4 linked regions of the Homo sapiens genome follow. The protein of the gene in region 2 purifies or fractionates together with the protein of the main gene of each other region. This does not show direct contact. Each region holds a gene or a part of one and is shown on either strand. Other genes may lie near its edges. The genes, in order: SLC9A1, SLCO6A1, LAPTM4B and TTYH3.

Evidence for each region.
Region 1: the proteins of SLCO6A1 (region 2) and SLC9A1 purify together in Homo sapiens (affinity purification with mass spectrometry; 2 studies listed by BioGRID and IntAct, with this or other methods). This does not show direct contact.
Region 3: the proteins of SLCO6A1 (region 2) and LAPTM4B purify together in Homo sapiens (affinity purification with mass spectrometry; 2 studies listed by BioGRID and IntAct, with this or other methods). This does not show direct contact.
Region 4: the proteins of SLCO6A1 (region 2) and TTYH3 purify together in Homo sapiens (affinity purification with mass spectrometry; 2 studies listed by BioGRID and IntAct, with this or other methods). This does not show direct contact.

The regions. Positions count from the first base shown.
Region 1 is NC_000001.11:27,098,303-27,103,147, reverse strand, and holds the end of SLC9A1 (sodium/hydrogen exchanger 1), read left to right. Parts: intron 1-404; coding exon 405-475; intron 476-589; coding exon 590-763; intron 764-1,017; coding exon 1,018-1,132; intron 1,133-1,321; coding exon 1,322-1,423; intron 1,424-1,872; coding exon 1,873-1,945; intron 1,946-2,503; coding exon 2,504-2,841; 3' UTR 2,842-4,339; downstream 4,340-4,845. UniProt on the Homo sapiens protein: Electroneutral Na(+) /H(+) antiporter that extrudes Na(+) in exchange for external protons driven by the inward sodium ion chemical gradient, protecting cells from acidification that occurs from metabolism.
Region 2 is NC_000005.10:102,495,991-102,504,006, forward strand, and holds the start of SLCO6A1 (solute carrier organic anion transporter family member 6A1), read right to left. Parts: upstream 3,012-8,016; 5' UTR 2,855-3,011; coding exon 2,497-2,854; intron 1-2,496.
Region 3 is NC_000008.11:97,799,775-97,806,802, reverse strand, and holds part of LAPTM4B (lysosomal-associated transmembrane protein 4B), read right to left. Parts: intron 1,451-7,028; coding exon 1,339-1,450; intron 1-1,338. UniProt on the Homo sapiens protein: Required for optimal lysosomal function. Blocks EGF-stimulated EGFR intraluminal sorting and degradation.
Region 4 is NC_000007.14:2,655,972-2,662,999, forward strand, and holds part of TTYH3 (protein tweety homolog 3), read left to right. Parts: intron 1-120; coding exon 121-213; intron 214-426; coding exon 427-563; intron 564-2,314; coding exon 2,315-2,488; intron 2,489-2,968; coding exon 2,969-3,044; intron 3,045-5,696; coding exon 5,697-5,768; 3' UTR 5,769-7,028. UniProt on the Homo sapiens protein: Calcium-independent, swelling-dependent volume-regulated anion channel (VRAC-swell) which plays a pivotal role in the process of regulatory volume decrease (RVD) in the brain through the efflux of anions like chloride and organic osmolytes like glutamate.

The sequences.
Region 1 (4,845 bases), on a different chromosome or scaffold from region 2:
CTGCCCCCCATCAGCCCCTTCTCCCTGTGCCAGTGCCCAGGGGCTCCCTCTGCCCCAGGAGGCCGCCAGGGTCTAGCCATAGGAAGGTGTGGTGTGAGCAGCTGGGAGCCTGAGGAGGGGGCATCATGCCATCTCTGCCTCCATTTGAAACCTATCCCAGGCATAGGTCCCAGGTGGGATTAGAGAAGGGGGCTCAGCCGGACACAGGCAAGGCTTCGAGATACCCAGAGTCAGGGCCGCTGGGTTCGATGAGTGGAGTGTGGGCGCCACCTCCTGGCTGCTCATGGAACCACAGGGCTGGACCCAGCAGGGCTGCAGCTACGGGAGGGAGTGGGGCTAGTCAGAGGTCTTGGTAGGGAAGGCGCCCCACAGCGAGGCTTGACTTGGCCCTGGGCCCCTTTCAGTTCCTGGACCACCTTCTGACAGGCATCGAAGACATCTGTGGCCACTACGGTCACCACCACTGGAAGGACAAGTAGGTGGCAGGCCTGGTGGGCAGGCAGGGAGGGGCAGGCAAGGGTCTCCTGGGCCTGGGCATCTCCCCACTCCTGGAAGCTGGCGCCATCCGTCTCCCTCCTCCTCCCACCAGGCTCAACCGGTTTAATAAGAAATATGTGAAGAAGTGTCTGATAGCTGGCGAGCGCTCCAAGGAGCCCCAGCTCATTGCCTTCTACCACAAGATGGAGATGAAGCAGGCCATCGAGCTGGTGGAGAGCGGGGGCATGGGCAAGATCCCCTCTGCCGTCTCCACCGTCTCCATGCAGTGAGTGCTGGGGCAACCAGGCAGCTTCTGCTCCCACACACCGGCCCCTCAAGCCCGGTTGGAGGTGGCCACCTGGGGGGCGGGGTCTTCTGTTGTCCTGTTGGGGCGGACAAGAGAGCTGTGGGCTCGCACCAAGGACCTGAGGCTTTGGCGCCCACCTGGGTCATCCCTAGGGTGACTTCCTTCTGGCCAAACCTGGGAGGCACCAGGATCCCAAGAATCTTGGGGACCTAACCGATGCCCTATTGCCCCAGGAACATCCACCCCAAGTCCCTGCCTTCCGAGCGCATCCTGCCAGCACTGTCCAAGGACAAGGAGGAGGAGATCCGCAAAATCCTGAGGAACAACTTGCAGAAGACCAGGCAGCGGGTGAGGGCCTGCTCCCCAGCCCGACCCCCAGGGTACAGGAGCCCTTCAGCCCCTCTCTACGGCAGCCCTGCCCTGCCCGTGCCCCTCGGCACCCACCCCAGGACTGGCCCGGCCTCCAGCACTGCCCCCACCCCTCCATGAGCAGAGCCTTCCGGGGCCCGCACTGCCCTGACGCTGTCCCTCCCACAGCTGCGGTCCTACAACAGACACACGCTGGTGGCAGACCCCTACGAGGAAGCCTGGAACCAGATGCTGCTCCGGAGGCAGAAGGCCCGGCAGCTGGAGCAGAAGGTAGCCTCTGCCTTCCTCTGGGAATCTGTATCCCACCCCACTCGCCCAAGCTCCGCCACAGCCTCTAAGGAAATGTACCCATTCTAGGAACAGGGTTTGGCTTTCGAGGGGCTTTTAGCAGTGTAAGGGCATGGAGAGCCATGAGTTCTAAGCAAGGGATTGGCGTGGGGTTGTGGGGCATGGCCTGGGTTAGGGCAGTGGCAGGGGACAGAGGAATGGGTGGATTTAAGGCTGAGCAGTGTAGGTGTATTCAGGGAGGCTGTGACAGGAGCCTGGGATGAGCCCTTAGGAGCTCCTGAGGGGCCAGTACGGGTGCCCACACAGGCACAAGGGAGGGGGAGCAAGCGCCCTGCATATACGAAAGGTGGGGTGTGCACTGGCCGGGTTCTGTCCTGAGGGGCTCCCTCTGCCCAGCTGCCTGTGCTCACCCCGTCTGTCCTCTCTGTCAGATCAACAACTACCTGACGGTGCCAGCCCACAAGCTGGACTCACCCACCATGTCTCGGGCCCGCATCGGCTCAGGTAAGGGCCTGGCGAGGGGCCTCAGGACTGGGCACTCTGAGCTGCCACCTCCTGAGGATGGGGCTCCACAGGAACAGTCCTCAGCCACTGGGAGGACAGGCCTGGCCCTCGCTGACCTCAGGATCCCCTCCCAAGCCATGAGCTGCTTCTACGTCAGGGGCCATCCCTAGGGAGAGAGACGTTCCGGGCGAGGACTGTGTGGGGAGCTGGGAGAGCCACGGTGCCTGGCAGGAAGGCAGGGTATCTGCCCCATCGAGACCCCCAACACGTGTGGGGAACGTGAGGGCAGGGCCCCAGGGCAGACTGACTCAGGGAGGAGCCCCAGGCCTTGGCCTGTGGAGGGACACCTCTGGGAGCCCCTGTCAAAGGAGAGGGCCACAGTCTGAGGAAGAGAAGCTGTGGGGTGGAAGGTCGCAGAGGCCTGCTTCTGAGGCCTGTTGGGACCGGGACGGCTGTGCTCATGAGAAGGCCTGAAGGAGGCACTGACGCGGCCGAGTGGCACGTGCTGGGCCGGGCTCCAGAGCGGAACCCAGCTTGTGCCTTGCTCTTGGTCCCCAGACCCACTGGCCTATGAGCCGAAGGAGGACCTGCCTGTCATCACCATCGACCCGGCTTCCCCGCAGTCACCCGAGTCTGTGGACCTGGTGAATGAAGAGCTGAAGGGCAAAGTCTTAGGGTTGAGCCGGGATCCTGCAAAGGTGGCTGAGGAGGACGAGGACGACGATGGGGGCATCATGATGCGGAGCAAGGAGACTTCGTCCCCAGGAACCGACGATGTCTTCACCCCCGCGCCCAGTGACAGCCCCAGCTCCCAGAGGATACAGCGCTGCCTCAGTGACCCAGGCCCACACCCTGAGCCTGGGGAGGGAGAACCGTTCTTCCCCAAGGGGCAGTAACACCAGGGCCAGCAGGCAGCGCCTGTCCCCTCACAGACTCTTCCACCAGAGCAGGGGCTGCTGGGGGCTCCCCTTGCCCTTCCTGACCCGGATTGGCCCTGCCCCTCCCCCTACCGCATGGCAGCTGGGCCCACAGCCCCCACCCCAGCACAGCTCCTCCCCTGCCGCCTCCCGGGAAGCATCCTCCCCACCAGAGCTGCCTCCCCAATCCATTTGGCAGAACTGCTGGGGCTGGTGAGGCCGGCCCTGCCCCTCCCTAGATCCAGGCTTCTCCCGGACCTGGACTAGGGCCTCGGAGGCTCCTCCCTCTGCCTCATCCTCCTCCTCATTCAGACCAATCTTAGTTTCTAACCAAAGAGTCTCTGGCTCAGCTGTGGTCCCACCCAGGAAGGGAGGGAGCTGAGGCCTCCCTTGAGTAGGCCCTGCTTTATCAGGGGACAAACCAGGGGTACCAGGCACATGGCTGGGGGAGGGACTGCTGACCCACCAAGGTCTCACACTCCTCCTGCCAGCTCTGTCACCCTGGCCACCACCCAACCTGTCCTTACTCAGAGCTGCGGGCTGAGGGCATCTCTGAGTGTCTCTGCCTGGAGCAGGGGTGGTTTCTACGGTGACAGTGACGTGACTCAGAGCTTTTCGAACTGTGCTCCCACGGGGACCACTGGGCCCCTCAGGGGAAGCTGCTAGGGGAAGGACTGGCCGTGGCTCCAGAATGTGCTGCCTTTTTAAGTTTTGTTTGTTCACACTCCTATATATGATTGTTTGCACAGAGGGCGCTCCTGTTTTTAAAACATTTTGAAAACCCCTGGCTGAACAGTGCTCTGCCTCTAACTCCCTCCTCACACTCCAGAATTACCCTTCCTCATCTGTGCCTGTCTGTCCAACCCCTCCCCCACGTCTCTCTGCCTGCTGGGCTCTTAACTGTTGCTCGAAGACTGTGACATCAGAAGTAACTCCCACTCCTAATCAAGAGTCTCTCCAGCCTCACAGATGCTGGCCTCTTGGCACCTGCCTAGCTCTTGGGCCTGACCTCCAGTCCTGCTGGCCTGCTCTTACTTCCCCCACCCTGGGTTTGGCCCCTGGAACCTTTCCCTTGTGTGTACCACACCCTGCCTGCTGTGGAGCCCATTGTGGAGGCGGTGGGGGGGAGAAGGCCTCCCCTGAGGATCCCCTGTCCCCTGGGGCTGGTGGATTGGGCAGAATCCTGGGCCCCCAGAGACCTTTGCCCACACACACTCCTTCCCCTTGTCCCTGGGGCACTCCCCCAGGATTGTGCAATAGTCAGAGTGTCCCTTTTTGCAGGGGACTGGGCCATGGGTCCTCGGCCCATCTGTCCATCCTCCTCTCCATGCAAGTGCTGTTTGGGCAGGAGTCACCATGCAAGGGTGACATCGACAACCACGTACCAAGCCACCGCAGCTGCTGCCACTCTGCTGCCTGTACAGAAGAAACTGAATCTTTTTCATATTCTAATAAATCAATGTGAGTTTTTAATAGAGTCAAGGGCTGCTTTCTGGGGACGAGGGTCTTTAGGAGGGAGGGTGGCCTGAGGGCGTGAAGTACTTAGTTCAAAGGCTGGCACAGAAACACTTCATGGCTGTCAGCTGCTGGGGTGGTTGTTCCCACATGCCAGGCACTGAGATACCACAATGAGCTAAGCAGGACGTGCCCTGCCCCGCGGGGGAGAGCGGCACTAACCAGTGCCCAGTGTTTGTGCAAGAGGTGAAAAAGAGGCAGAGGGGAGGGAGGGACGGCGAGGAGGACCCTCCTGAGTCCCGAGTGAGTGAGATCCCAGGAGGGGACTGAAGAAGGAGCCAAGGCTTCCGGGTGGAAAAGGACCCAGAAAGTTCCCAAACATTGTAACTGGGAGCTGTGCCCACGAACACTGGGACCTGAGAAAAGGCCGGGTGGCTGGGTCAGAGTGACAGGGGAGGCAAGGATGGGGCCGCGTGCTCCATGGTTAAGATTTTGCTCTTAACCGTGGGAAGACCAAAAGGGCAGTGG
Region 2 (8,016 bases):
TTTTGGCCCCAAAATGAAAAGGAGACAATATTGAGACAGCTGGCAACATCTGGATGGGACCACCAGTTCATAATTGGATGATAGTATTGTACTGATATTCCTGCCTGTGAGGAACGATGGTTATGTAAGAGAGTGTCTCACTTTGGGAAGTTGCACACTGGAGTAGTTAGCAGTAGTGGTGCACCATGTCTGAAAAACTGGGCATGTATAGGGAAAGAGAAGGCGAAGGAACAAATGTGGTAAAATGTTAACAGATGAAGAATCTGGTTGACTCACAGGAAGCAGGTATTGTTTGTACTGCCTTTGTATCCCTTCTTTATGTTTGAAATGATTTTAAAATTGTTTACAATGTAAAAATAATAAATAGATCAATTGACAAATAGAAAAATGAAGAGAGATACCATTTTTATGAATGGAAGACTCAATATTATACCCAAACTGAGCTAACTACCTGTATGAAGTCAGTTAAGATACAGAGCTAAAAACCATATACTGTCCATCACTTGTTCAGAAACCTTCAATGGCTCCTCATTACCCACCTAATAAGGGGATTACACTAAACTAGATAATACTTGCAAAGCACCTTACTCATGACCCAACATAGTGGGAAGTAAGTACCTTTTATATCCTTTCAGAATTATGTCTGGTATTTAAAGGCCTTCATAATCTAGGCATAATCTGTCTTTTCCTTTCTTTTAAAATTCATTCATGCATCGAATACATATTTACTGAGTGTCTTCTATACCTCAGTCACTAAGGAGACATGATGGATAATATAAATATAATTACCCCCTTATGGTGCCTAGATGAAACCATTATCCAGCCAAACTTGTCATTCACTATTGTGAAACAAGCCTTTCTAAAACAAAACACGATTCATTAACTCGCTTCCCTATTCAACAAATACTCTTTAATTTCATTCTGGCTTTCAAAACTGTACCTACTATAAAGGCATAGTTCAAATGCTTGTTCTTCTAAGAAACTTCTTTGATAATCTCAAGACAAACTCGATGACAATTTATTAGTTTTTCTAGTATGGGTCTTACAACATACAGCCTTTTGATTGCACTTATTTAGACCTAGCATCTTAGAGCAAAAAAGAGAACAGGTTTGTCAAATTCCAATGCCATCATTGAAAAGAGGCTAGTAAAGAATCTTGATGTAATAGGGGAGGTGAGAGCTGTGGTCAAGTAGAGAGGCATGCCAGGTCTAAAGTGTTCAAATTCACCTTCTTCAAAATATGTGGGCAAAAATAACAACCTCAAGTTTAGATTCTCTTGTATAAATTCATAGATGAGGAAAAAAGATCCAATAGAGAGTGGCTGAGCCAGAATGTCGCAAATTTGTGAGCAGGATCAGAAACCATTTAATGATCATAGACACCGTTTTCAACTTTATTTTAAACTCCAGGTGATTCAACCCAGAACTTCTCAGAGTTGGTGACCAAACAACGATAAATGACTCAACAATATCCTCTCTGCAGCTGGCTATCTGGAAGCCAGGCCCTCATCACCCACAATGTGTAGGATGGACTGTGCCAGTCAGGTTCTGGAGGAGGTGAGGCACCCAAGTTCGTGCCAGCCGGTTAACCTGTTTTTGAAACTACCTTTGCAAAAATTATAAATGAGGAAATTATGACAGTGAAACAGATTGGACCTAATCCACTCCTTCTTGCTTCTAACCTTTAAACTCCTTGTTCATTCCTGGGCTTAGGCCGAACTAACTTTGGGAAGGAATTCATTTCACAGTTTGACTCTGAAACAAAATTGATAATAGCTCTTTTCTGAAAAGATCCCCTTGTTGCCTGGGGACTAATCTGCCTTTGCAGGACTAACAAATTATCTACAAGATTAGAAATTAAGGTTAGGGGTCATGCAGCCTCTGGCGCCAAGAGTCTGAACCTCCGCAAATTGCTCCTGGGGAAAACATCATTATTGTAAAACCGAAGCTCGGTGCTTGAGATATTTTGCAGACCCTTCACTGGATGGTTGAGCTGACACCACCCAGACAAGTAATCTGGGTCAACTAGTTCTGCCATCCCACCCAGGAACAGAAGATGGCAAGAAAACCTGACTTCAACCACACTATGATTCCCTGACCAACCTGACCAATCAGCACTCCCCAGTTCCCGAGCCCCTGCCAGCCAAATTATCTTTAAAAACTCTGATCCCATCCCAGAATGCTGGAGAGACTGATTTGAGCAATAAAAAAACTCTGGTCTCCCGCACAGCCGGCTCTGCGTGCCTTACTCTTTCTCCATGGCAATTCCCCTTCCTTGATAAATCTTCTCTGTCTAGGCAGCGGGCAAGGTAAACCCACTGGGTGGCTAAACTTTGATCCGACAACGCCTTGAGAAGTCAGAAAGCAGCCTCAGGCTGGGCCACCCCAGGGCATGCTGGGCCACCCCAGGGCGTCCTCCGCCATACTCCCTCTCCCGCCTCCGCCAGTGCGGCCCCAGCTGCCCTCGCCACAACAAACCGCCTCCTTCAGGCTCACCTTGACATATGAGCAGGATGCAGTAGAAAATCATGAAGCAGCGAATGTTATTGCAACACTCACAGCAGGTGCTGACTAAGCAGCCCAAACCACAGGGCTGCTCCAAACTGTCATCCACTTCTCCCGGCTTCTTGGAAACTGAGGACTTGGCTTTTTTCCTTTTTCGGAAACCGCCGAACCTTATCAAGGCCTCTGGAAGTAGTCTCAGATACCGGTGTTTTTTCCCGGGCTTCGAGGACTTCGGGGTTCCCTTGGCCCTCCTGTCCTTAGCAGGCTGGGCCCGCGCGGCCTCCAGCGGCTCTACTCCCCTTGAGACTTCATCCTGGCTCCCAGAGTGCCGGGCGACGCCTACGAACATGGCTCACCCTGGGCGGCTCCTGGCGACGCGGCCCGAGTGCTCTCGGCTGCCCGTCCTGCCTGGGCCAACCCAAAGGCCAGCCTGGCGAGGGCGTCGGAGGACTCGGTGGCCACAAGGGGCTCTTGCCGCCCAAGCCTCCAGAGCGAACGTTTCTCCTAGGGCAGGAGGCAAACGTCCTCCCGGGGGTTGACGGTTGAGAACTTCCAAAGCTGTTTTCCTTCTTTTCTTCCACGTGCGGAAGGAAAAAAAAAAGCTAAAACTAGATTTTGATAACTGCTAACACAGACAAAGAGCACCAGAAGCATGGAAAAAAAAAAAAAGTGGAACTGTCCGTCCCCAGTTTCCCCAGACTTACTTTATTATGGTGGCTTTCCAACTGAAAAATCTCACTAGAAACAACCTGAAAATTGTTGAAGGACCAGGAGAGAGCAGAAGACATTAAAACAACAACAACAACAACAACAACAAAAACAGTTTCACCACAGTAAAAGATTTGGACGCACAAAAATCAGAAATCAATGTCCGACTGAATGTCCTTAAGTGAAGTGTTTTACACATAGAAATTATTGCCCTACAAACTCTATCCCAACTCAAGAACAGAAAAGATTATCATTTTCCACCTTAAATGAGGGCACGAGAACCAGAGGATTATTTTTTCAGGTATAAAAACTTTATTGAAGAGAAAGAATGTAAGCGAAGAGTAGTAGGATATGAAACGTGGCTTTCTTTTTTTAATGAAAATGCAACTTCTTATTGGTTTTCTTTTCTTAGGCTGATATATAAGCTCTTTAGGCCATGTATATGTGGAGGGTGACTTTCCAGGAGAGATGGCACTATCTTCTCTCCTATGGATTAGACATTGTGTTGCCAAAAACAATTTAGCTCTTCAACAAGATTTTGTGCTGCTCCAATAGTGCTGGCCTGGTAGACCAGGGAAAGAAGAATTAAGAACCACTGACCTGAAGCCTGATTTCGACTCTACACTGCTTCATGATAATAAATGTAAAAAAAAAAAAAAATCCACAGGAATCCTAGGAGGTAGGAAAGACAGTGGGGAGTGGTGGGCTCTTATTCTTGTGCTTCAAAACCAGAATAGGTACTGCTTGGGTGCAGAGCGGAAAAGACAACTCCATTAAAAATGAATGGTACTGGGAATTTTACTTCTACCCAGAATGTAGAAAGCCAAATAAAATGTAACCCCCACTCCAATAATAACAACAACAACAAAGCTGGATAGTATGAAAAAATACTTTTTTTATCAGAGAGCTACATTTCTATAGCTATGGCTGCTGTAAAGAAACTAGGCAAATTGATTCTAAAGGACAATAAGCCCTTCAGAAAAAGGATGGGACACACAAACCATTTTACTTTTCAAAGAGCACAGAAAGAAGAAAAAGCAGTCATAAAGGAAGATAGAAACACTTGAAATTTTAATGAATTCTTAAAGGCCAAGGGAAGCTTAACAGTTTAGAAACCCTAGAAGCCTAAGAAATAAGGGGAGTCTATACCCGTTTACCAGATCTTTGTTTAAGGGAAAAGATTTGGTCGTGGTAGACTGTCCCTGAGAAAGAAGAAGGAATACTTTCCCTCCTACCTCCACTGACCCTTCTGCTATCCAAAGCAAAAGCAGTTTTGCCTCTGGGATTGAGGCAGGAAACTCTCATGCCCTCCAGTCTGTGACAAAGGTTATCTGTTACAGAAGAAAAAACCCACTGAAGGAGGAGCAGCAAACCATCCTGTCTATGGCCTACCTTAAGATTGACTGCCACCAGAGAGAGGGATAGAAATAAAACAGTTTGCCAAAAAGAGAGGAGCAGGAACTTCATTTCTTCCCAAGAACCCCACTGAAACAAGGCAAAGCCCGAACTTGAGGTTCAGGCATTCAGGGCATGTCCAAAATTGAGGCTGGACCAGGGACAACCTAGCTTCTGCCTCGATGAGGAGTTTTGCATGAGTGAAAAAACAGCACTCCACCAATATAGGTGAGTCAAGAGAGCAGAGGGAAACCCTACCTGTGGTGCAAGCATACAGGACCTGCTGAAAGCTAAGGGTGGAATGGAAACACTGACAAACATACCTTCAACATTCTTTGATCAGCATATTTTTATTACATAATGTAGGACACTGTCATCCAGCTACAAAAATTGTACTCTAAGTATTTAAGTAGAAATTGTGGATATTTGTTTACCTTGCTCATTTAACCTTAGAAAACATCACACTTAATTCATTTTGGCTACCTTTATGATAGTACCATGCATGATAGAATTTCATGGTATGGATTTACTATAATTTATTTAACCACTTTCTTTTATATTGATGGGTATTGGATTGTTTTTCAATTTTTGCTCTGACCATACTGAAATTAACATGGTTGTATGTATTTTCCTGAGACAGATCACTGATTTTAAAAATCTTTTTATAGATGATGTCGATCAGAGTTATAAAACTATCTCAATTCCAGAAATATTAAATGTGAAAAAAATTATCTTTGAATCTTAAAATGTATGCATATTAATTACATGTTTCCTAAAAGTTAGCAAGTAATTATAGTATAAAATTTCGATACAGGCAATGAAATATAGCTACCAACTAAAGCATTCCCTGATGAGTTCAGCAATCCAAGTGCTTAAGATATTCAAGAAACCAGCTTAAATTAAACAATGAATGTTTATGAGGTGCTCTTTTATATTCTCTATGTAATATCTATTTCCGCTAAATGCTCTAAACATGTAGGAAGAACTACTCACTAAAGTAACATATTGATGATAATTCATATAATCCTTTTAGCAAATGAGCCTATGAAGTAGATAAACCGCATGATGGTGCAAATTATAATAATGTAGCTTAATATAAGATGACCTCAACTATTAAGAGATATAGAACTGTTTTCTCTTTTAGTAAATGGTTTCTCATTTGCTTTGCTTTCCTGGTAAATGATTTTTACTTCCTCCCTGATAGACAGTAGTGACATTTTGCTACAATTTCTAATATGCTACCACCTATAATATTGCAGTGACGCTTGTTACATCTTTCCTTCACAATATAAGATTTACAGGTCCTATGTTGAAACTAATGTTAGATATCTGGGTGCTATAAGTACTATTTTTCTTGATAACTACAGACTTTTTATTTTACTTTTTGCTTTCTGTGAATCTTTTCAGTTTACTGAGATTAGAAGTCTAACTGCTAGATAAGTAAAATGCTACATAATTTTTTAAGTCCAGAAGAAAACAAAGGCAACTGGAGGAAACGGGTGGGGACATGAAAGAAAGAAGCATTATATGTAATGAATAAAGTATAGACTTTGCTTAGTTGATATGTGATTTGGGGTAAGTCTTTTAAACATTCTGACCCTTAATTCTTCATTTGTAAAATGAGGATAATAATTATCCCATTTGAAAAATTACTGTGAAGATTAGAAGCAATATATTAAAAGTATCTAGCTCATTTTTGGCATATGCTTAAACAAAGATAATTATGTTTCAAATTATTAGAATAATGAGCCACCATATTAAAAAGTAACTACTGTTATATATACCTCCCTACAAGTCAGACCCTCATTGGTGAGTAGAGATTTACCAATTGAGGGGGAAAACCTATCAGCAAATGTTTTCACAAAAGGCTGTAAAGAGATGGCAACATTTCAGATTATCTGTAATGAACTGGTAGAATTCAGATAAGTAATAATGTTTGCAGGAGGCATAGCAGACTAAGTTGATGTTTGTTGTGAGGTACATTAGAGGTATTTTTCTTTTCCTTTCTTTTTTTTTGAGATAGAGTCACACTCTGTCACCAAGGCTGGGGTGCAATGGCCCAATCTCGGCTCACTGGAACCTCTGTCTCCTGGGTTCAAGTGATTCTCTTGCCTCAGCCTCCTGAGTAGCTGGGACTACAGGTGCGTGCCACCACACCTGACTTGTTTTTTGTTTTTGTTTTTGTTTTTGTTTTGTATTTTTAGTAGAGACAGGGTTTCATAATGTTAGCCAGGATGGTCTCAATCTCCTGAACTTGTGATCCGCCTGCCTTGGTCTCCCAAAGTGCTGGGATTAGAGGTGTGAGCCACCAAACCTGGCCCATTAGAGGTAATGTTTAAGACACTTAGGAAGAAAATCAAGTGCTGTGACAATAAGTTGTAAAGCTTCATGAAGTAGCTTCAGGGACAACAAATTACCCTGATGGGGAGAGAGCTAGAATCAAAAGTGGAATAATATTTAGATCCCCAGAAATGGTTCCCTACCTGAGACCTTATGGAAACAGAGACAGTCAGAAGAAACTGGGAGGCCTGGAATCTTACAATTAAGAAATGTGTAAACATTGAAATAAACATGATATGGTTTGGCTGTGTCCCCACCCAAATCTCATCTTGAATTCTCATGTGTCATGGGAGGGACCTGGTGAGGCAGTTTCCCCCTTACTGTTCTCATAGTAGTGAATAAGTCTCACAAGATCTAATGGTTTTATAAGGGTTCTGCTTTTGCTTCTCTCATTCTCTCTTGCCACCACCCCGTAAGAAGTGCCTTTCACATTCTGCCATGATTATGAGGCCTCCCCAGCCATGTGGAACTGTAAGTCCATTAAACCTCTTTCTTTTGTAAATTACCCAGTCTCAGTATGTCTTTATCACCAGTGTGAAAACAAACTAATACAGTAAATTGGTACCAGTAGAGTGGGGCGCTGGTGAAAAGGTATCCGAAAATGTGGAAGCAACTTTGGAACTGGGTAACAGGCAGAGGTTGGAACAGTTTGGAGGGCTCAGAAGAAGACAGGAAAACATGGGAAAGTTTGGAACTCCCTAGAGACTTGTTGAATGGCTTTGACAAAAATTCTGATAATGATATGGACAATGAAATCCAGGCTGAGGTGCTCTCAGATGGAGATGAAGAACTTGTTGGGGACTAGAGCAAAGGTGACTCTTGTTATGTTTTAGCAAAGAGAGTAGTGACATTTTGCCCCTGCCCTAGAGGTTTGTGGAACTTTGAACTTAAGAGAGATGATTTAGAGTATCTGGCAGAAGAAATTTCTAAGCAGCAAAGCATTCAAGAGGTGACTTGGGTGCTGTTAAAGGCATTCAGTTTTAAAAGGGAAACAGAGCATAAAAGTTTGGAAAATTTGCAGCCTGACAATGTGATAGAAAAGAAAATCCCATTTTCTAAGGAGAAATT
Region 3 (7,028 bases), on a different chromosome or scaffold from region 2:
CTATTTTTAGTAGAGATGAGGTATTGTCACCTTGGCCAGGCTGGTCTCGAACTCCTGGCCTCAGCTGATCTGCCAGCCTCGGCCTCAATCTCATGAGACTTACTCACTATCACAAGAATAGCAAGGGAAAGAGCAGCTCCCACAATTCAATTACCTCCCCCTGGGTCCCTCCCACAATACAGGGGAATTCTAGGAGATACAATTCGAGATTTGGGTGGGGACACAGCCAAACCATATCAATTCCAAACAACTGTGCTCAGCTAGTTACTGAAATTAAAGTCTATTTTTCTCCCCCAGGTCTGTTCCCACCTCCTGACTCCGGACTTTCTCAGCTCAGTTAAGATGCAGGTCATCTCCTAAAACTGGAAAGCAGAAGTCATCTTTGATTCCTCCGTCTCCTTCGCTGCCCAAAACAGCAAGTTGCCAAATCCTTCCCTGTTCTCTATCCCCAGTGCAGCCTAGGTGGTATCCCCAATACCACTCTCCCAGGCTCTGTGCTCACACACCCAGTACCCTACTCAGCAGCAAAAGGGATCTTAAATGCATATATCAGTTCATGCATTTAGTTAAAACCACTGAACAGCTTTTTCTTACTTGGAGAAACAAAGAGCCCTCACCATGTCTTTCGAATGCTTCCGATCTCTAAAACTGCATGTTGAGCCACTCTCTCCTCTCTTACTTTGCTCCAACACTTTTTAAGAAAAACTCACTTGAAGTTCTCCGAAGCCAATGAGAAATAAATCTGTACTATCTTCTGCTGGAGATTATGCACAGCACTACTCCTCTCCTTTGGCATGGACTCGGCATAATGATTATAAAATGATGAGGCTGCAGTGATCTTCAAGCTGGGAGCCTAGCTTCCTCCCTGCTTACCCCACATCCACATCCCTGTACATATTTCCATTCACTGGGAAAAGGCCCTAAATTCCCCCAAATAATCTGCAACATCATTTCTAGAATGGAAAAGGATCACTCCTAGAATAAAAATAAATACTGAAACATAATAGAAGACACAAGGAGATAAGCACAAGCCTTTTCACCTTCCTTCCTGGCATTTATACCCCTTCCTCTCAAAAAAGGCCAAAAGGCCCAGGGTAGAAAGTCTATGATAATGCAATCATTTTTAAGTGGGTAAGTTAACATAAGATGAAAATAGATCTTATTTAGACTCTTGCACCTAGAAGACAGAATGTTAGACGCACACAAATATTCGTTGATTTGCAATGACAAGTTATATATCAGCTCAAATGAACTCACGAGTCTATATTTGTAATTTAATAGGAAGTGCTGGCAGTCAGATTCCCTGCCCTTGAAAATACCCAAATATCTACTACTTACTGGCATCATCCATGAACTCAAAGTCACCTCCCAGTTCAGAACTTGAAAAGTTATACTGATCCGGATCAGCCAGGGCACTCAATAAAATCAACAGTACCACAGCATTGATGATCTGCAACAAGAAAAAAAAAAAAAAAAAAGAATTTAAGTAACCCCAGGATGCAATCCTTATAATAGAAAATTACACTGACCACATGGAGTCAGGCTGGCCACAGGCAACTTCTTCAGTGGCTTGACTCTCAACACTAAGCCCCACCCATGGAGGGAGCAGATAAACATTCCCAAGGCAGAAATGCTGCCAGCCCATTCAGTTGCAGCCAAGTGCACAAGGCTTGGAGTGAAGACAACAGCAGGATTTTACCTCATTCCCCCTGGCCCAGGCACCATAGAGCAGTGAACAACACACACAAACACAGGCATCAGCCCTGGCGCCAGTGGTTGAAAAAGCACAAAAACTTTCCAGTGAGTCAGCTACACTCTAGAGCTAAAGGTAAGCAACCCAAGTTGTCTCAGTTAATCAAACATTTTACAGGTTCAAACTAGTGGAGCTTTGAGAGCTTTGAAGCCATCTAGGAAGCAGTTTCAGAGAATGAATGCAAAGCTACATAGTGGATCCAGGATCATCCTTCTGCAATAACCCTTTCCAGGCCAGGCCAGGCCAGGCCAGGCCAGTAGTCCTGTCTTCTGAGTACTGCCCTTGGCTACTTTAAACTCAGCTCCTCTAAATGACAATCACCTTCTTTAACATCTCCCACTTCTGCCCTCCTTATTTGTTCTCTAATTTAAAAAATGGCCTCGCTATTAATAATTAATGAAAAACATTCAGGCACTATGCTAAGTGCTTTATGTGGAATCTCTCTTAAGCCCTGCAATAACCTAACGAAGTGGGTACTAAATTATTCCCATGTTATACATAGCAAACTGAGGCTCAGAGGTTAAAAAACACTGCCCAGGAACAAACAACTACCAAGCTGTAGAGATGGGATTTGAATCCAGGAATTTAGGTTCCAAAACCTAACCTCTACAAGTCTCCTGTCCATATACGAAACTTGATCATCTGAGTTTACCATCTTTATCCTGCACACTCAACCAACTGCAAAATCCTGATCATTCTACCTCTTCATTTCTATTTCCTTTATTCTTCCTGTCACTGCTGGACAATACACACACATATTAACTTTGATGGGGCTGGGGTAGCAAGGATTGCAGAGTTTAAGTGAGGCACCAGCTAAGACTGGGTTGTTGTCTGCTGAGAGACAAGGTGTCTATATTGCCCAGGCTGGCCTCAAACTCCTGGGCTCAAGCAATCCTCCCACCTCTGCCTTCCAAGTAGCTGGGCCTACAGGTGCGCATCACTGGGCCAGGCCAAGACTGGCTTGTTACTTCTTTACTATTCTAAGTTCAGAAACTTATGGCACAGTTCTATGTTTTACTCTTCTCAAATGGAGTGAAGATACACAGAGAAAAGCCTCTTACTAACAACACTAACTAATGGCATATCCTACCACAAAAATCATATTTGGGTTGAACACAGTGGCTCATGTCTGTAATCCCAGCACTTTGGGAGGCTGAGGTGGGAAGATCAGTTGAGCCCAGGAGTTCAAGACAAGCCTGGGCAACACAGTGAGACCCCATCTCAACAAACAAGAAAATGAGCCAGGCACAGTGGTGCATGCCTGTAGTCCCAGCTACTCAGGAGGCTGAGGTGGGAGGATCGCCTGAGCCCAGGAGTTTGAGGCTACAGTGAGCTGATGCGCCACTGCACTCCAACCTGAGCAACATAGTAAGACCTTCCCTCAAAACCAAATAAACAAAAATCCACATACTTGGAAATACCTGTTTAAAGGAAGTGTAAATGTTTTACAGAACATCCATTCAAGAGTTTATTTTTGGCCCGGCACGGTGGCTCACACCTGTAATCCCACCACTTTGGGAAGCCAAGGTGGGTGGATTACTTGAGATTAGGAGTTCGAGACCAGCCTGGCCAACATGGTGAAACCCTATTTCTTAAAATGCAAATTAGTTGGGCATGGTGGTGGATGCCTGTAATCCCAGCTATTCAGGAGGCTGAGGCAGGAGAATCACTTCAACCAGGGAGGCAGAGGTTCCAGTGAGCTGAGATCGTGCCACTGCCCTCCAGCCTGGGTGAAAGAGTGAGACCCTGTCTCAGGGGAAGAAAAAAAAAAGTTCATTTTTAAATGACAATCCCAATTGGTTATTTCAGGATTATTGTAGGATTCGAAGTAACTTTTTTTCTTTTTTTTTTGAGACGGAGTCTCACTCTGTCACCCAGGCTGGAGTGTAGTGGCACGATCTCGGCTCACTACAACCTCCACCTGCCAGGTTCAAGCGATTCTCCTGCCTCAGCCTCTCGAGTAGCTGGGGTTACAAGTGCCTGCCACCACACCCGGCTAATTTTTGTATTTTTAGTAGAGATGGGGTTTCACCGTCTTGGTCAGGCTGGTCTTGAACTCCTGATCTCGTGATCCACCCGCCTCGGCCTCCCAAAGTGCTAGGATTATAGGCGTGAGGCACCGTGCCTGGCCGGAATAACTTTTTTTCTTCCTGTATTTTCCAAATTGTCAAATAAAAGCTGATTGCTTTTCGAAAAAAATTGTAATAATGAGAAGAGCCACTTCCCAGAGTATACATATACATATAACTAATTTAAACAGATACTACAAGCATGTGTTTAACCAAACACCTGAACTGTACAAAGAATATATAGTGAAAAGTTACCTTCTCCGTCAAAGGCATCTGAACCAAAGCGACTCCATTATGAACAGGGGCTTGGTAAAATGTGGCTAAGACCCACTGGGCTGCACTTCCAGGAGGTTAGGCCTTCTAAGTCACAGGATGAGATAGGAGGTCGGTGCAAGGTACAGGTCGCAAAGACCATGCCGATAAAACAGGTGATGGTAAAGACGCCGGCCAAAACCCATCAAAACCAAGATGGTGACAAAAGTGAGCTCTGGCTGTCCTTATTTCTCATTATGCACTAGTTATAATACATTAGCATGCATGCTAAAAGACACTCCCACCAGCGCCATGACAATTTACAAATGCCATGGCAACGTCAGGTAGTTACCCTATATGGCCTGAAATGGGGAGGAACTCTCATTTCCGGGAATTGCCCACCCCTTTCCTGGAAAACTCATGAATAATCCACCCCTTGTTTAGCATATAATGAATAAATAATTATAGTATTATCAGTCGAGCAGTCCAAGCTACTGCTCTGCCTATGGAGTAACCATTCTTTTGTTTCTTTACTTAATAAACTTACACTCACTTTACTCTATGGACTCAATCTGAATTATTTCTTGCACGAGGTCCAAGAACCCTCTCTTGGGGTCTGGATCCCCTTTCCAGTGACATCTCCACAGTAATTATTATAACAGTATCTTGTTTCTCTCCAAAGATCCAAGAAATTTCATAGCACATTTTAAACAGTGTGATTAACAAAACTATCTGAAGAAAACTTTCTGTTACAACTCCAAGGCTTAAAGGAGCCACAGGCCAGTCCCACAACTGGCATTAAGATTTATGGCAAAGATGTTATTTGATAAACTGTCAAGTTTTCTTGGCATTTCAATCCCTCTATACTTTTTTTTTTTTTTTTTTGAGATGGAGTTTCGCACTGTCGCCCAGGCTGGAGTGCAGTGGCGCAAGCTCGGCTCACCGCAACCTCCACCACCCAGGTTCAAGTGATTCTCCCGCCTCAGTAGGAGCCTGTAGCTGCGATTACAGACACCTGCCACCACACCTGGCTAATTTTTTGTATTTTTATTAGAGACAGCGTTTCACCATATTAGCCAGGCTGGTCTCAAGTGATCCGCCTGCCTCAGACTCCCAAAGTGCTGGGATTACAGGTGTGAGCCACTGCACCCAACTCTTCTATACTCTTATTTTTGAGAAAAGGTATGTGGAAAATTGTGGACTGAAATAGGATCAAACGAAATAAGAAGAATGTGCTTTGAAAAATTATGAAGAGCTGGGCATGGTGGCCTGTAATCCTAGCACTTTAGGAGGCCGAGGCAGATGGATCACCTGAGGTCAGGAGTTTGAGACCAGTTTGGCCAACGTGGTGAAACCCCATCTCTGCTAAAAATAGAAAAATTAGCTGGACATGTTAGTGTGTGCCTGTAATCCCAGCTGCTCCGGAGGCCAAGGCAGGAGAATCGCTTGAACCCAGTGGGGGGCGGAGATGGCAGTGAGCTGAGATGGCACCATTGCACTCCAGCCTGGGCAACAAGAGCGAAACTCCATCTCAAAAAAAAAAAAAAAAGTATGAAGAACCACACAAGGGCAATGTACTCCATTATTGTTATCATAACAGGGTAGGGTTTTAAAGCTGAAATGAAAAAACATAAATTTGGGATTCATGGGCAAAAAGCTTTAGAGGAGGGAGCAGAGGTAAGGAGCTGGTCAGAGAAGATGGAAAGGTGAGGAAGTCGTACAGTGTGAGTCTGGGGTCCCGTAGGGCTACTTATGGAGTCTTGTTTTGTTTTTTTTAATTAGAGATGGGGTGTGTCACTATGTTGCCCAGACTGGTCTTGAACTCTCAGGCTCAAGTGATCCTCCTGCCCCGGCCTCCCGAAGTCCTGGGATTAAATGCGCGAGCCACCACCTGACTTTGTATTTTATTCTAAGTGTAACAAGAAGTCAACGGGGCTGGGCACAGTGGCTCATGCCTGTAATCCTAGCACTTTGGGAGGCCAAGGCGGGCAGATCACCATAAGTCAGGAGTTTAAGATGAGCCTGACCAACATGAAGAAACCCCGTCTCCACTAAAAATACAAAATTAGCCGGGCATGGTGGTGCATGCCTGTAATCCCAGCTACTCCGGAAGCTGAGGCAGGAGAATTGCTTGAACCCGGGAGGCGGAGGTTACCGTGAGCCGAGATTGCATCGTTGCACTCTAGCCTGGGCAACAAAAGCGAAAACTCCATCTCCAAAAAAAAAAAAAAAAAAAAAAAAAAAGAGGTCAAGGGGTAATATTACAGAAGGGAAGAATGTCATCTGGCCAGAGTTCAAATGAGTGAATATACATAAAATACCTAGACCGGTGACTGGCATACAATAGCCACTCAAATTAGTTATCTTACCTCTTCACATCTTAACAAGAACCATGTTAAAAGCTCTTGGTTACTAGTTTTCTAGATCTTCTAAAGCCAGTGTTAAGACACCTGCTTTACGCCTGTGCTTTCCCCGCACTCTCAGTCCCTAGGGACCTGTCAACTCTTAATCCGCTTATTATTCCCCCGTGGAGTCTACTGATCATATATAGCTACTAATTGCCTACAACACATATTTGCTAAGTGCTTAGGAAGAACTCCCTAGGACTCAGAACATGAAGTTAAATACATCATGTACCCAAAAAACAAAAAGCATAAAGCAATGAATGTGACAAGAGCTCCGAGAAAGAATCATGGAAGTTAAGGAGAGTTACAGTCAGGGGTTGCAGGGACCTGCAACAGAGATGGGAGCATTTGAACAGGAACTCAAAAGATGAAGATTTGGAGCCTGAGAGGTGTGGAAAAGAACAATTCCAAGTATGAGCAATGCCACTGAGACAAGGACATCTCCTCAAGACAGCAAGTTCAATGTGGCTGGAACGCCAGGGTCAGGGGGTATAAAAGGAAATGTTAGAGGATAGAACCAAAAATGTAGGATGGGGCCAGGTGGTGAAG
Region 4 (7,028 bases), on a different chromosome or scaffold from region 2:
GTATCTCAGTCGAAGATTATGGGCTGGAGGGAGACCTGGGGGCTTCCCAGATGGGGCGAGGCTGGCTCGAGGTCCCCCGTCCAAATGAAGTGCTGACCATCTGCGGTGCGTGCCCCCCAGGACCCCCTCCTCCGCGTCCAGGAGGTGCTGAATGGCACGGAGGTGAACCTGCAGCACCTCACCGCCCTGGTGGACTGCCGCAGCCTGCATCTGGTGAGAGGCAGGGCCTGGGACAGGGCCATGGCAGCTTGTAGGGTGGGAACAGGGGAGCAGCTGTTCGGGAGGATGGGGACCCTCAGCAGACAGTGGGTCCTCAGCCCTGCCTCTGGGGGGCGGTCCAGGCCGCCGTGGCTGGGCTGAAGGTCTCACGCTGCCCCCTCCACCCTCCCTGTCTCTGGATCCTGCCATCTCATCCCACGGCCTCAGGACTACGTGCAAGCGCTGACCGGCTTCTGCTATGACGGCGTGGAGGGCCTCATCTACCTGGCCCTCTTCTCCTTCGTCACAGCCCTCATGTTCAGCTCCATCGTCTGCAGCGTCCCGCACACCTGGCAGCAAAAGAGGTGAGGGGCCCTGGGGGGTCGCAGGAGCTTGCCCCAGGCCACATGGCATGCGGGACACTTCAGGGGCATGCCTTTATGGACACCCATGTGCCAGTCCCAGAGGTGAGGGACAGACACCTCCTCACCTCGTGACCCTCCCTAGGCCTCTCTAGTGTCTCTGAGGCTGCCGGTTCCCAGGTGAGCATCATCATTTCACAGGAGGAAAACAGCCTGGAGGAGCTCCCGGCCTGGGTTGCAGGAGTCCAGAGCAGACAGTGGGGAGGACTGGGGTCTCTTGCCTCCCCAGACTGGCTCTGTGCCCTATGCCCTGAGAGCTGGCCTCAGACTGTCTACTCTGTACCGCCTCCCAGGCAGGTGTCCCCCACCATGGGGTGCAGGTGCACGACGCTGTGGGGGAAAGGTTGGTGGTCCACTGTGCAGGCTTAGCTCTGCCAGGGGTAGTCCAGGTAGCTGTGGCCTCCAGCTAAGTGACCAGGATAGAAGCCAGCTCCCCTGGAGCCACTATGTCCTTACCTTTGAAGTGGGGGTCCTGGTGGCCCCTGCCTGAGTCTTCCCATTCAGTACTGGTTTGAGTGGTGTATTGGGGTGACAGGCTCCTTCCCTTGCCAGAGCTCCTATGGCTTATCTTTGAGACCTTCACCTCCTCTCCCACTTGGACTGTGGCTGCTGCTTGGTGGCCCAATATGGATGGCAGGTAGCTCAGCTCAGATTTCTTCCTTTTGTCTGGATTTCTATTATTTTCCTTTGTGATGGTGATGGTGATGCTGCCAACGATGATGGTGATGGTGATGGTGGTAATGATGGTGATGGTGATGGTGGTGATGATGGTGATGGTGGTGGTGATGGTGATGATGGTGATGATGGTGGTGGTGGTTGTGGTGGTGGTGATGGTGATGGTGATGGTGATGTCATTGTTGATGTTGGTGATGGTGATGGCATTGGTGATGTCGGTGATGGTGGTGGTGATGGTGTCAGTGGTAACAAAGATGGTAGACATAGGGGAGTAGATAAGAGCATAGCCCTGGACCCACAGGGCTAGATTCAGATTCTGTCTCTATCCTTGCTTATTGTATGATGTGGGCAAGTCACTTAACCACCCTGGGCCTCAATTTCCCTCATTGTAAGAGGACACAGCTGGAGTGTCGAGTGGGCACTTGAGCCACTGCACGTGAGGGGCTTGGCTGGTGGCCCCTGCGCAGCCAAAAGCTACCACTGTCCTGTTTCTGAAGTGCTTGCTGCCAGGCAGCCCACCCTGTGTCCCATGTGGGACCTCCTGGGGCGTGGAGGCTCCAAAGTGCCAGAGGCTCGCGCAGAGTGGAAGACAGAAAGCCAGAGGGCAGCAGGGCTAGGAAAACTGGCTCAGGCCACCCAAGGGTGCAGTTGGATCCTGCAGAGCCAAGAGGCACCCCAGCCTCCTGTGCCTTCAAGAGGCACCCTGGCCTCCTGCACTCTCCCAGGAGGGGCCCTGCACTCTTCTTTCAGTAAGCAGCCAGCCAGCCTTGCCATGCACAGGCCGCAGTACAGGGCCTGGCACTCGGGTGACCACACAGGTCTCATAGCACCCCACCTCGCAAGGGCAGGGCTGGATGCAGAGCCAGGTGACCTGCCCACAGTCCCACATGGAGTGTGCACACGGCCGAGCCAGAACTGGAACCAGGAGTGTCTGTCTGCACCAGAACTGACCCCCATGGGTCTGTGGCCAGCTCCTTCCTGCTGGGGCCTGAGCCCGTGCTGCGTGTCCCTCCTCACAGAGGCCCTGATGAGGACGGGGAGGAGGAGGCCGCTCCAGGGCCGCGGCAGGCGCACGACAGCCTCTACCGCGTCCACATGCCCAGCCTGTACAGCTGTGGCAGCAGCTACGGCAGTGAGACCAGCATCCCGGCCGCGGCCCACACCGTCAGCAACGCCCCGGTCACTGAGTACATGTGAGTTGACGTGGGCCTAGTGGGGCCAGCGGACACGTCAGCTGCGGCTGAGAGCGCGGATCTGGGCTGGGGCTAGCTCGAGGCAAGGGGCTGGAGAAGGGGCGGCCTCCGGGCTGGGCAGCCCTGGCCTTGAGTGCCTCCTGCCCCAGGTGAACACGGTCCAGGGGCCATGGAGAGGCCACATGGTCACATGGAGGTTCCGTGTCCAGGGCACAAGGACTCTGTGGCCAAGGACCTCAGGGCCCAGCTACATGGTGAACAGGTGGCTCGGAGGGAGTGGACTCTGGCTGGGCCAAGGTGGGCAGGGGTCTCTCTGTGGGCCCTCTCTGAGCCCTTTGTTACTGTGCTGGGTTCGTGGGACCCCCAGTGAGAATGGATGTGCCCATCTGGGCACAGCGGGCCTACCCATGGGCCCCCCGACCTGCAGCTGGGACTGCATGGCCAGCAGGCACTCACAGCCTCTCTCCCCTCATGCCTCAGGAGCCAGAACGCTAATTTCCAGAACCCCCGCTGTGAGAACACCCCACTCATTGGGCGCGAGTCCCCGCCGCCCTCAGTAAGTCTTGGGGCAGGAGGGTGGATGGGGGGCTGCTCAGCCTTGGGGGTCCGCTGTTCCACTGCGTCGGTGGGCTGGTGTGGCATGTGCAGCCAGTGTGAGCTCTGGGGGCAGCTGTGAGCTGCCACCACCGGGGTCCCAGGTGACCCTTCCCAGCTGGGACCTCTCTGCAGGACGCCTGACCTGAGTTGACGGGGCTGGGTGGGACTGCCAGCTCCTCCCCGCTGGCCTTGGAGTGTCCTGGGGCCAGAGTGGGCAGCCTCGGGACCAGCCGCCCAGGGGGTCAGCTCTCAGGCCCTTTCCTGGGGAAGGAGAGTGGGTGGGCGGGCAGATGTGGCCCCACTGTGGCCCTCCCAGCTTGTAGGCACGGCCCTGCACCAGGCCCTCCCTGGCCTCTTACCTGCCATTCTCTGTGCCTTCTGGACCTGTGGGGTGCCACCGCTCCAGTTCCCAGGGGCCCCGGCCCTGCCTCCTTTTCTTTTTCTTCCTTGAGTCTTTTCCTGAGTGTCCACACATGGCTGTTTCAGCCCAGGCCTGGTGTCCCCTTTGACTTCCCGCGTAAGACACAGGCAGGAGGGGACAGGGTGCCGAAGAGAAGGAGTTGGTGGCGAAGCTGGGGGACCGGGGAGGGGGCGGCCGGGCTACCAGGACAGGGCTTGGGAGGCCGAAGGCTGCCTTGCTCAGAAATCCCCATCCCGGGGCCACTGTCATGGTCCCCTGTAGCACAGAGCTGGGCCTGGGGGGCCTGGGAGGGGCCGGGCCTGTGAGGTTCAGGCCACACAGGTGCAGGCCCAGTCCCGCTCGGCTGCCCTCGTCCTCGCCATCACACGGCCCACAGCCCACTCCTGGCCCCACACCCTGGCGTTGAGGCCACACTCTCTCTCTCTCTCTCTCTTGCACCCCACCCACCCCGGGCCCTCCTAGCGCTATCTGGCTGCCCTGGACTCTGGCAGCCACGCGGGCTGGCAGTTTAAGCCCATGGACAGTGCCCGAACGCTGTGGTAGCTGTTCCCTCAGAGCGACAGGTACTGACCCACCGGTCCCCCATCCCGCACGGCCACCCGCCTGCGCCTCCCGCCTCCACCCTGCACTCACTGCCGCCCTCCCGTCGGCACTGAGCTGGGGCTCCATCTGTCCGGCTCCTGTTGGCAGGGCCAGCTCTGAGTGCCACGGCTCAGCCAGAGACTTCTAATGCCGGCTCTGGGCCCGCCAGCCTCACAGTGGGGTTGGCAAGTCCCCTTCCAGGCTCCCCCTGCCCAGTTGCTTGGCCTCTGGGGACTCTGCCACAGCTCCAAGTGGCCCCAGCCCCTTCTGTCACCTCCCAGTGAGGAATCCATGCACCCAGACCCCTGTATGTGCCCGGGCCCCTGGGCATGTGGCCAGCAGGCCCTGCCCTGGAGGCACCAACTGCGTGTCAGGGGCGTGCACACGGACAGGCACGTGCCGGCGAGCACGTGAGCTTCTCCCGCTGGCCCCACGGTGGTGCGGGTGCCTGCTTGGGCTCCTTCAGGGGTCTGCGCGTCTGCCCCGTCCCGTCCAGTCCCGCCCCGTCCCGCCCCCATCCCCTCCCCTTGTGCTGCATGTCAGTGGAATGACGAGGCTCCGGGCCGTGGCTCCTCCCCCCACCCCCTCCGTGGCGTCCCCACAGGCTGCTCGAAACCTTCTTGGTGTCCCAGGAGGGCCCTCGGGGACCCGGGGAGCTCTGTGCCTCTGAGTCTGGGGACTATGGGGATGGGCCTGGGGCCCTGGGGTTCTGAAGCCCTCCTGGGATGGGAGCCAGCCTGCCAGGTCTCCTCACTGCCGCCGGCCCCTGACACGTGCCAGGCCTGTGGGTCCTTTGGCCTCAGCACATGCCTCGCACATGTGGGTTTCTCTGTGAGCACACACATGCATTCTCTTGCACACACACGTGCACTCAAGACCTTCACACTCCTGCCTGGACGAGGGCACCCACGAGGTGCAGGCCAGCTGCAGAGCCAGGCACAGGACAGCGCCCCCTGCAGCCGCCTCTGTTCCTAAGTCCAAGACCCCCAGGAGCCCACAGTTGGGTCCCCCACGGGAGGGGGGGCTGCATTGCTCCAGCCTCCTGTGTGGCTTAAGGGGCCCTCCTTCCATGGCGTGAAGGGGCAGAGTAGCCCGGGGGATGTCCTCAGGCTGGGGCCTCCGTACTCCTGCATGCTGTGGCCTGGCTGTAGGTGGACCCGGCCCTGAGCCCGGAGGAGGCCTTGGCCCGGCCCTGGAGGGTGGCTGGTTTGTGTCCTTCAGGTCCTGGGTGCGTAAGGTGCAGGTAGGGCCTTGGAGCTGTGGCTCCTGGGGGTGGCAGAACTCTGCCTGGCCCAATGCCCAAATGCCGCTGGTGTGGGCATGGGAGGCTGTGTGTACGCCCCTCCTCAGAGGAGACATCCCCTGTCCTGAGCCTGGAGAGTTCGGGGGCTGCCCCTCCCTCAGCCTCAGCCAGACCTAGAGCGCAGGGGCCCCCAGCCAGCGGCCCCTCCTTAGCCCCTCCCTATAGGCTCTGTCAGGGCACCCTGTACTGTCCCATTCTGCCCCCAGGGCTGTTGGCTCAGCCAAGTGAGGACCACGCGGAAGGCGCCCCTGGCTGCGTGCGCCATGCAGGGGCCCTGCTGATGCCTCCCCCTTGTCTCCCTCCAGTACACCTCCAGCATGAGAGCCAAATACCTCGCCACGAGCCAGCCTCGCCCTGACTCCAGCGGCAGCCACTAGACCGCGCCCGGCAGCCACCCACCCCACGTGCCAACTTCCCCTCCCCGTGCCAGCACTGCCGCTTCCACCTGGGCCACCCACCGGACCCTCGCACGCCGTGCCAGGCCTGCCCCAGACGCGTCTGCAGGCCGCTTGCCCTCCTGTCCCCTCCCCGCAGGGGCACAGTGGAGACGCAGGGGCTCTGGGCCCGTACCGCCAACTCGGGTCACACCTGAACGCTGCTGCCAGCCGATGCCCCAGCCCTGCACGCCACCCACTATCCCGGCACGCTCCCTCTGCAGATGGTCGCCGCACCTACAAGCCCTGGCCGCACCCAACCTGTGTTGTTGCCGCCCGGCCCTTCCCTCCACAGCTCTCCTTCCTCCCGCCCGGCACTTCTGTGGACCCCTTCTTAGTTCACAGGCACGGCTGGGGCCGCTCTGTGCTGGCGCCTGCTGGCCACTGAGGGACAGGGACACGTGCCACCTGCTCATCTCTGCCCTGAGGTCACCCCGTGGTCCCTCCACGTGCCCATCTCTCTGCAGTGCCCTCCTCGCCTGTGCAGCCCGCCCACCCACAGGCTCACCCCTCCTGCCGGCTGCCAGAGGCCCCCTCCAGCAGGGCCTCTCTCCGTTGCCCCAGCTTCACTCTCTCCCTCAGCACCTGCCCTGCTGGAGGCCCCAGCCCTCCGTGGACAGCAGGGGCCACGTGGAGCCCGGGCCGCTCACCCGCCACCCAGTGCTGGCCGCCTTCTTGGTGCCAAACCCCCTTCCCCCACCCAGAGACTGGGCAGCTGTGTCTGGTTCGTTCTTTGCACTAACCACATTTGTCATCTCTAGGGCAGGCTGGGGCTGCGGGCTGAGGGGGACCGCTGGCACCCCCCTTCCCTCCCTTCTTGGTTCCATTTCCATCCATGACAGGTACAGCATCCCAGGAGCCCGGCCTGAGGGGCTGGACCCGAGCCGGCTGTGAACATCCCTCAGCCCCTGCTGTCCCCCCTTGGGACTAACCACTAACCTCACCCCCAAACTCCACGGGTGCCCCTAGCTGGCCCAGAGCCGGCAGTGTGAGCCCAAGTCCGGGCTGGAGCCGAGGCCGGAGCAGCTGTCTGGGAGTCAAGGCTGCAGTAGCGTTTCTTCATGGGGTGCTCCAGGGGGTGCCACAGACCGACAGGCAGCCCAAGGGCCTGGACACCCCTCCCCAGGCAGGTGCTGCCCCAGGAGGACTGTCCTCGGGAATGAACCTCCCGCGGGCTTTGGACTGAGGTCCCTGTGGCCTCGG